2 linked regions of the Homo sapiens genome follow. The protein of the gene in region 1 purifies or fractionates together with the protein of each later gene. This does not show direct contact. Each region holds a gene or a part of one and is shown on either strand. Other genes may lie near its edges.

Region 1 (5,492 bases):
ATGTTGTAATGCAGTGGGTGGCAGATGGTCACGTAGTGATCATAGCCCATGACCATGAGAAGGAAGGAGTGAGTGAAGCCAAACATGAAGGAGAAGAACATCTGAATGGCACAAGCCACAAAGGTGATGGAACGATGGGTGAAGAGCAGATCAGCCAGCATGCGAGGGGTGATGGCAACAGTGAACAGAATCTCAGAGATGGAGAGGGCACACAAGAAGAGGTACATGGGTGTGTGGAGTCTGCGTTCAATCCAAACTGTGGCCATGATAAGAAGGTTGCCAAGCAATGTGAACAGGAACATCAGGAGGTACAGCAGGAACAAGACAGGCAGGAGCTGCTGGGGGAAGGCTGAGAAGCCAGAGAGGATAAATTCAGATATGGTTCTGTAGTTCTGACCAGGCATGGATACTGTATCTGGTGAGATCAGAAACAAAATTAAGTGACAGTGGTTAAAACTTAGACTCTAGCACAGACCAAATGGAAACCCAACAGCTCTATGCTATTCAACAACTGGTGGAACTTTCTGGGTCTCACTTTCCTCATCTGTTAAATGGAGTAAATAATAATAGTTCTTAACATTCAGCAATGTGACAAAGATCAAACGAGATCAATATATTAGATGACCAAGTCAGATGTTGGCTACTAATTGGGTTTCCATTAACACTGACTAACATAAAGAAAAGTTTCAATACTTGGAGCCATTAGAGACAGGCATGGATGATCAGGGTCAGATTCCCCTGAAAATGTGCCAGTTCTAGAAAACATTTATTTTGATCTTGAGCCTTAAATTTTTGTTCCCCAAGAGTCTTTGTCTTTTAATTGCTTATTTAACCCGTTTACATTTATTTTAATACTCATTTATTGATACTCATTTATGCCATCTTATTTCAAATTACACATTTACTATTCTAATAAATCTGAATAGAAAATTCAAAAATAAAAGGATGGGTAAATATATGTCTGAAGAATATGCACCAAATGAAAGCTGAGGCTGCAACCTTAATAAAAAAGTGGAATTTAAGGAAACAATGATCGCAAGGTCTCTAATACAATACACCTCTACAGGGAAGTAGAGTTCCTTAACACATGGCTGATCTGTGGTCTGGACATGGAAGAAAGCCTTGGACATCTTCTACCAGTGTAAAATGAAATTTTCACTAAGTAATGGGATAATATTAAAAGCCTGCAGGTACCAGATTGAAAAGATGCCCACTAGTCAAAAACAATAATCATTGTACAGAAGATGGAGGAACAAGCTAAATTATATAATGAGAAAGCTTTCAGAAAAATCCAGAAGGTGGATAATTCCACAGAACAATTGGTCTGGTTTCACTGATAGAGGTATATTGAAAGGATAAGAGAGATTCCAGGACATAGTAACTGGATGCAACATAGGGGACTAGTTGAATCTTGATCTACATAACCAGCTGTAAGTATTTTAAGGCAATAGAGAACATTTTGATTACAGTATGAATGAATGATTACGTATGAGTAATATTAAAGCATTATTATTGATCTAATTGTGAATTTTTTAGAGACAAGGTCTCACTCTGCCCCCTAGGTTACAGTGCAGTAGTAGGATCATGACTCACTGCATCCTGGAACTCCTGGGCTCAAGTTATGCTTCTTCTCAGTCTCCTAAATAGCTGGACTACAGATGTGTGCCACCTCACCTGTCTAATTAAACATTTTTTTTTTTTTTTTGTAGAGACAGGGCTTTGCTTTGTTGCCCAAACTGGTCTCTAATTCCTGGCCTCAAGCAATCTTCCTGTCTCAGCCTCCCAAAGTGGTGGGATTATACACATGAGCCACCATGCTCAGCTAATTATTTTTGTAAGTGTTATCTGGTTATTTTGACTATGAAGGTAAATGTTTAGTTTTTCAATGCATACCAAGATTTTTACATCTCACACACACACACATGCACACACACTAAGGGACAGAGAATAACATTTATACCCATTAAAAGAACATAGCAAACAGCATCAATACTATAAATCCATGTAACTATATATCCTGGAATATTCATTAACAAATAATCAATACAACTTCAGTGAGATAGATAGAAATAGCCAAATCGACGGCAGATTGATTATTTTTTTTTTGAGACGGAGTCTTGCTCTGTCACCCAGGCTGGAGTGCAATGGTTCAATCTCGGCTCACTGCAACCTCCCCTTCCCAGGTTCAACTGATTCTCCTGCCTCAGCCTCCCTAATAGCTGGGATTACAGGCGCGTGCCACCACGCCTGGCTAATTTTTGTATTTTTAGTAGAGGCAGGGTTTCACCATGTTGGCCAGGCTGGTCTCAAACTTCTGACCTCAGGTGATCCGCCCACCTCAGCCTCCCAAAGTGCTGGGATTACAGGTGTGAGCCACCACACCTGGCAGATAGATTATTATAGTTAGAAATTTTAACAGAGTTCAGAAATGCAATTTATTAATTATTAATTACAAAGCAATTAATAATATCCAGACATTAGCTATTATATATATTAGACTCTTCACCAAAAAGAAAATTAACACTCTTTCAACCACTCAGCGACTTTTACAAAAATGGACATTTCATTAGAATATAAAAATTTATTTAATTCCAAAGCATAATAATATGATATAGATTATAATGAATTAACATTAAAAATCAATAGGGAAGAAATAGCTTTACAAATCTCATGTGTTTGGAAGATAACTATATAATTAAATAATCTACAGTTTCAACAGTAAATCATAAAATGGAGGAATATTTAGAATTAAATGATAATTTAAATATTGAATGTCAACATTTTAACCTAAAATAGTACTTTGAAGGAAATATACAGCTCAAAATACCTTTATCAAAAAACTGCCTCAAGAAAAAAATCATGCATAATAAAATCAAAATCAAGTTATTGGAAAAAATTAATAAGATAAACAAGGAGAAGGTACCAATAACAGAACCCAAAATTACAAATGGGAAATAATTACAGAGATAATTGATATTTTTAAATTAATAAAAATAGTAAAAGAAATAACAAATTTACATTGTAGATGAAATGAACAAGTACTTAGAAAAATATAAAATTCCAAAACTGGTGCAAGAAAAAAGGGGATGCTATATGCTCAAATAAGCTTTAAAGAAATTGAAACGGTAGTCAAAGATCGTCTCTCTAAAATCTTTGCCCCAGTGGGTTTTATTAAAGTGCGGTAAGTACTATTAAACTGTTAAAAAAAAAAACAGTTGGTTAGAATCTTACACATGATCTTCAAAAAAATAGAAAAGAGTTAGGAAATCTGACAAACACATCTCCTCAAGTTAATGCAATCTTTGTCTAAAATCAGGCAAGAATCTTCACCGAGAAAAAGAGACAATTATAGGCCTACTTCACCTATCCAGGCAGATTTAAAATTCCAGAATAAAACATAACCTATTCAAATCTAATGGTGTATTAAAAATAGTTTACCATGATCAAGTGGCATTGGTTTATTCCATAAATGACAAGATTGGTTAACATCAGAAAACCTATCATACAATTTATCACAGGAATCGATTTAAAAAGAAAAATCATGATTATTTCAATCAAGGCATAAATACATTCTCTAAAACCCTACTCCTATTATGATTTAAAAAAAAACACTTCACAACACAAAATCCAAGGAGACTTTCTTAACTAGATATAGAATATATAGCACAAATTAGCAAATACAACACTGAAGAAGAAACTTTTCCATGCATCACTTTAGAGTCAAGAAAAAGCCAAGGATACTCACTAATTCCGCTGTTCTTTAACATGGAGCTGAAATTCGTGAGTGATGGTATAAGGTAAGGGAAAGAAACAAGTTATCTAAGGTATCTAAGGACTGGAAGGGAAGAGACGTGATCATCTACCTAGAAAAGATGAAAGAATGATGACATCATGTATTAGAACAGCAACAGAGCCCAGTGATGCAGAAGGCAAGGTCAGCTGGCAAAAACCCCAGTGATCCTCCTAGTATCACACCAGTAACAAGCATTCAAGAAGTATAATCTGAATACAGAGAAAGAGAACAGTCCCAATAGCAACACAAACTATTAATATAAAGAAACATCGCTCAGGATCCCTTTACACCTCAAAGTTACTAAGCACTCTAAAGGGCTTTTGTTTATGTGGTTTAGAACTATCCATTTTTACCATATTGGAAATGAAAATTGAAAATTATTAAAAATATTTAGTTATTAGTATATTTAAAAAAGCATGCCCAGGCACGGTGGCTCACGCCTGTAATCCCAGCACCTTGGGAGGCCGAAGTTTGTGGATCACTTGAGGTCAGGAGTTTGAGACCAGCCTGGCCAACATGGTGAAACCAGGTCTCTACAAAAAATACAAAAATTAGCTGGGCATGGGGGCACGCGCCTGTAATCCCATCCACTTGGGAGGCTGAGCCAGAGAATCACTTGAACCCGGGAGGCGGAGATTGCAGTGAGCCGAGATCATGCCACCGCACTCCAGCCTGGGCAACAGAGTGAGACTTCGTCTCAAAAAAAAATTTCTAAAGAGCAATAGTAAGTCTATTGAATGCTAATATGGGAAACATTTTCAGGCAAATAATCACATTAGGAAAAAAGCATTTCATGAGAAGAGTGGCCTTGTTTGACATTTTAGCCAATACCTCATATGTCCTAGCTTGGCAGGAAACAGCTTGATGGTTTCATCTGCCTCTTCATTCAGTCTGTGGCAATATATTGAAGCATATGATGAAAATATATTCTCACATGTAAATTTGAAAAATAAGGATTTCAGGGACCACTCTGCAGAGGTCCTCATGTCACACTTTGAAAAAATCTGCTATAAAATATCTAGGAATTAACCAAAAACATGACATAGCTCCAAAGAAAAAATTTTAAATACATACTAATAAAAATGTAGAAGATGATCTGAACACATGGGGAGCAGTATAGAGTCTTGGCTGGGATGGCCTGATGTGCTAATGGTGTCAATTCATCCTCAAATTATAACCTCAATACTTAATAATACTCAATAATATAATATTGTATTATATTTACAATTCCAGTGAATCAACTGTAAATTTGATAAAACTATTTGAAAATTCCTTCAGAAAAATAAATATCAGGCCAGGCACGGTGGCTCACACCTGTAATTTCAGAACTTTGGGAGGCCGAGCTGGGCAGAACACTTGAGGTCAGGAATTCAAGACCAGCCGGAGCAACATGGCGAAAGCCCGTCTCTACTAAATATACAAAAATTAGCCAGGTGTGATGGCCCACTTGTAATCCCAGCCACTTGGGAGGCTGAGGCACAAGAATTGCTTGAACCTGGGAGGCGGAGGTTGCAGTGTGCTGCCTGGGTGACAGAGTGAGACTCTGTCTAAAATAAATAAATAAATAAATAAATAAATATGGAATCAAGGGAAGAGCTGTTCCCTCCCACGCGCTGAGACACACAATAGAGTCATAGTCATTTTTAAAATTATGAAACGTGGAACAGACCTAGGTCTGGGTAAGTCGATTGGAAATCTC
Region 2 (5,054 bases), about 28 Mb from region 1:
GATGAATATTCTTCCCCAAAGCTGAAAGAGCTTTCATGAAAATGCCTGGAGCCATTCAGTATAGAACTAAGTGCTCTTCCCCATGGTAGCTATCTCAACTTTGAAGGGACAAATTTTGTCAGCAGTGGGAGTCCAAGCTGGAGATGATGGTACCATCCCTTGTCTGCCCTTGGATCAGTTACCTTTGTCTTCAGCTTTTAAGGGAGACAGGATCTCAAAACTAAGGTTCTTATCCAGCTCTTTTATTTCACAGATGGGAAAATAAGGCACTGTCCAAGTAACACACAGTGACAGTGGCAAAGTCGTGCTTGCTTCCCAGGTCCCTGACCTCAGACAAGGGTGTTCTCTCCCATTAAATGCTTTTTTCTCCTCATCTTGCTCCATTTTCCTATCTTGTGGCAAGAGATTAACAATCTAAATTCCAATCCTAGTTCTGACACTGACCAATGAAATAAACATTTAGGCTGGGTGTGGTGGCTCACACCTGTAATCCCATCAAGGCAGGAGGATCACTTGAGGCCAGGAGTTCAACACTAGTGTGGGCTACAAAGCAAGACCCCCGTCTCTACAGAAAATTTGGTGCTGTGTACCTATAGTCCCAGCTACTCTGTAGGCGGAGGTGGGAGGATCGTTTGAGCCCAGGAGTTGGAGATGGCAGTGAGCCATGATCATCCCACTGTATTCCAGCCGGGGCAACAGAGCAAGACCCTGTCTCTAAAATAATAATAATAATAATAAATATTTACGAAGCACCTATTGTGTCAGGCACCTATTGTTCTAGATGCTGGGGAAACAACAGAGAACAGGACAGGCAACGGGTCAAAAGCCAATAAACAGGTAAATAAATAAGATCATTTTTGACAGTAATAATTGCTACAAGGAAACTCAACTGGCCGAAATGAATAGTGGGGGAATGTGAGCTACTTCAGATAGGGTGGTCAGGGAGGGGAAGTCCTCTCTGAGGGGATACGTGAGCTGAGATCTGACTGAGCCCGTCACAGGAAGGTTTGAGAGTAGAACAGGAAGTTGTGAGTAGAGCCTTGAAGGAAAGAGAACAGCAGGTGCATGGGTCCCCAGGCAGGACTCAAGGTAGCCACTCAGGCATCAGAAAGAGTCAGGCGGCCATGATGGCTCACACCTGTAATCCCAGCACTTTGGGAGTCTGAGTCGGGTGGATCACCTGAGGTCAGGAGTTCGAGACCAGCCTGACCAACAGGGTGAAATCCCTTCTCTACTAAACTACAAAAATTAGCCAGGTGTGGTGGCACATGCCTGTCATCTCAGCTACAGTCATCACATCCCTGTACTCCAGACTGGGTGACAAGGTGAGACTCCATTTCAAAAAAAAAAAGAAGGAAAGTCTATCAGGCTGGACAGGAGTGGGAAGGGGCAGTGAATGAGAATAGGCAAGGGCCAGACCCACAGGGCCTTACTGTGTGCTGTTGGGCCTCAAGCCTGCCCTCTCTGGACTTTGCTCTTTCTGTCTACGACAAAAGGGATTCTATCGCTTGGATTCTCAGATCCTCCTTTTCTGTTTTTGACACTGAAGAATTCTGTAACCTGCAACTTTTCCCCCACATGTGGCTAGCAGCCTAGAACATTCCAGGCACTGTGGTTTCTGCCTTTGCTTCATTCACTCCTGGCATATTCCCATGGTCTCAAGTGCCTGACCACCCATTTGGTGGGCCCCTGGCTCAATGCAGCACCCTCTATGTACATCAGAAAGCAGAGCCTCTTGGGGATACCCGAGGTGTCCATACAGAAGTGTTTGGACCAGTGCAGCAGTACAGCTGCTCTTCTGAAAAGGAAGGTGCACAAAACACCAAGGCCATAAAGGGTTATGGTTAAATACCAGGAGAAAAAGGCCAAAAAAAGATAGAAACTCCTAAAGAAAAGAGACAGAGAAACAGACTCCCCAGAGATCACCTGAATTGCTCAGCACCTAGAAGATGAAGGCAGTCATATCCCTTCCCAGTCACACTCACAGAGGCAGTTGCCGGGATCCCAATACAAGGTTTGGAGGAGCTGTCTCTGAGGTATGCTTTACTGCCCTTCCACACCCAAAAGACCTCATTCCTGGTCCCTGGCTACTCCCAGAGCCCACCATGCCCAGACCTCTTACCCACCTCACCTCATTTTTGTGGGACCACCCTCCCTACATGCTTTTGGAGGGCAATTATAGAAACCCATCCACTCCCCAGGAGAGATCAAGAAGTCTCCAGCTTTCTCGCACAAGCCCCCGATCCCTCCTCCAGATGCAGACCTCCCCTTACCCAATATTTAGGAACCAAGGTCCACAGCCATCTTAGAACCCCGGAAGTCTCAGACCCCAGGGGCCTCCGCCACCCCATCAAGATTCAAAGCCCACTGCTCCTTGGGGACCTGTGTGCAGGCTTTTTCTCCCAGAGAAATGTAGACCCTGTTTCCCTCTGAGGCTCTGAAGCCCAAGAGTTCCAGCTCCCTGGGGCGCTCAGGTCTCCCTCCCCTATACTGGAGTTCAGGTCCCAGTCATGGACACCTCCCCACCAATTAGGAAACAGGACTTCTACCAGCCTCCCTGGAGGACTAAACATCCAGTAACTCCAGTTTCTACTCCCTAGGAGACAAAGACATAGTCCCTGCTAGAGTCTGGGCCACCAACTCCCTTCAGGACAGAAGGGTCTAGATGTCATTCACCATGGTTCCCAAAGGTATCAGGATTCCTGGCCAGGGGCGGTGGCTCACGCCTGTAATCCTAGCACTTTGGGAGGCCGGAGCGGGTCGATCGCCTGAGGTCAGGAGTTCGAGGCCAGCCTGGCCAACATGGTGAAACCCCGTCTCTACTAAAAATACAAAAATTAGCCAGGTGTGGTGGCAGGCACCTGTAATCCCAGCTACTCCGGACGCTGAGGCAGGAGAATCGCTTGAACCCGGGAGGCGGAGGTTGCAGTGAGCCGAGGTCGCGCCATTGCACTCCAGCCTGGGCAACAAGAGACTTCGTCTCACAAAAAAAAGAAAAAAAAAAAAAAAAATCAGGATTCCTGTCCCCCAGACTCTCTGAATCCAGGTGATAAGAAGTCACACATCCCAGCTGGAAGTCAAGAGTCCACATCCCCTTCAAGCACCCAGGATTAAGCCCAGGCATCCCCTGTCAGAGTCTGGACTCCCAAGCCCCCTCCCACTCCTCACTGGGCAGGCTCAGGGGGTGCCAGCACAGCCTCAGCATCAGCCCGCATCTCATCGAGAGCCTGCAGCAGGACGCCGTGAGCCGCTCGGTAGCCCAGGCCACCTGTCGCCGCTGCACCACCCGCAGGCCACAGGAAGGAGAGAGCCCCCAGTGCTGCGCCCCCAGCAGTGCCCTCGCCCGCCCAGGCGCCCAGTCTTGCTTCCACCTCGGCGCGCGTCACCGGGCCTGGGAAATGAGCGCGCGCTGCCAGCTCTCCAGAAGCCAGGCCCAGGGCACGCTCACGTCGAGCCAGTGCCGTGGGTTCCAGCCCCAGGCCCCGTCGCCACTCCGCCAGCTGACCCCGCAGAAGTGCCACGTCGCATGCCCAGCCCAGCCCTGGGAGTGGTGCCGCCGCCGCCGCCAGACTAGCCAGCAGAGCTGGCCTCCACGCCCCGGCTCGCAACGCCGCAGCCTTGGTTCGGGCAGCGCTGGGAGATGCTGGTGGCAACGCCAGCAGCAGTGCCCCTGCCTGGGCTGGGGGGAGCGCTCGCCGCAGCCATTCGCATAGCCCTGGGAGTCCGCCAGGCCGTAGGGGGAACACTGGCGGCGGCGCCTCCTCCAGCACCTCCCACGTCTCGTCCTCCGGGCTTAACGCAGCGGCCCGCTCTGAGTCGCCACCACCTGATTTCTTCATGCCGACAACCTGCTGCAAACCCTCGCTGCCAGCTTTCCCAGGACCTTCCCCGCTGCCTGCTTTCTGCGATCCAGCGCTACATTTCTCCCTTCCCTTACTGAGTGCATTCTCCAATCCCCCTCCACCTGCGTTCTTTAAGCTCTCGCCCTTGGGATTCTCCATCTTGCCTTCTCCCAGACACTCCGGATCCTCGCCCTCGCCGTCTGTGCGCACGCAGACAAGAGGCGCATCTGGTAGCAGCAAGGCCTGGACCTGGGCCCAGTCCTTCTCAGTGGGGGCCCCAGGGGTGACGAGGATGAGGGCGTCGTAGTGCGTTGGGTGAGAGGCGGCGGCCGCGGTGGTGGCAGTGCCCGTGTGGCCCAGAGGCACGGTCCAGAGCACCACATTCGGGCGCTCTGGGGCTGGGAAGGGAGTGGGTGCTGTGGGGACCGAAGCAGGCGCAGCGCCTGGGTCGCCAGGATCCAATCCAAGCAGCATGTCCACCACAAGGCCCACGTCAGCCTTGCCAGCCACGGCCAGGTCTAGCCGTGCGCTGCCCAGGCGCTCCAGGCCTGAGCGCACCCACGACAGCGCAGCCTCAAGGCCGCCGGTCTCAAAGGCCTCACGCACAGCCTCTAGCTCTGCTGCACCCAACACCTCGAAGCCATCCTGCGCCGGTGGCAGGAGCCTGTGGGGACAAGAAGGGACAGGGTCAAAGGTAGAAGAGGGGCTGGGTGACATGGACTGGGCTATGATGACAAGGGCAGAGCTTTCCTAATGATCCCAGAATGGGGCAGGGGTAGGAAAGGGAAGGGCCAGACTGATGGCACAGCAAATAGAAACCAGATAGGGAGAGGCAGTGATGATATGGGTGGGGCTTCAAGCAATAATGGAGTCTTGATTATTGGACGGGTGGACATAAGGTCAGGTTTCCCACCCCAGCCTAAAATGGGGATTGGGCTAAAACTTCCATGGAATACAGTATTTGGGGGCGGGGTTTTTCCAAGGGTCGGCTGTGCTGGGTGGGACAAAGCTCACAGAGGGTGGGGCCTAGAACAAAGAATCGCAACTGTATTGTGGCCTAAACACAAGTCCAGCACTATTTGAGACAAGGTCCCCAAGGGCACTCTTTTCAGGGGCTGGGCCTAAGGAGGGTCAGTGAGGGGAGAAATCTCATCTACCAGTTCTTACCAAGGGGGAGTGGCTAAGGTGACTCCCGGGCAGGTGAGGCTAAGG

Evidence for each region. The genes of interacting proteins can lie anywhere in the genome.
Region 2: the proteins of OR10H3 (region 1) and IRGQ purify together in Homo sapiens (affinity purification with mass spectrometry; 2 studies listed by BioGRID and IntAct, with this or other methods). This does not show direct contact.

The regions. Positions count from the first base shown.
Region 1 is NC_000019.10:15,736,305-15,741,796, reverse strand, and holds the start of OR10H3 (olfactory receptor 10H3), read right to left. Parts: upstream 3,813-5,492; 5' UTR 3,746-3,812; intron 416-3,745; 5' UTR 405-415; coding exon 1-404. UniProt on the Homo sapiens protein: Odorant receptor.
Region 2 is NC_000019.10:43,588,862-43,593,915, forward strand, and holds part of IRGQ (immunity-related GTPase family Q protein), read right to left. Parts: intron 4,507-5,054; coding exon 3,165-4,506; 3' UTR 1-3,164. UniProt on the Homo sapiens protein: Autophagy receptor that specifically promotes clearance of misfolded MHC class I molecules by targeting them to the lysosome for degradation.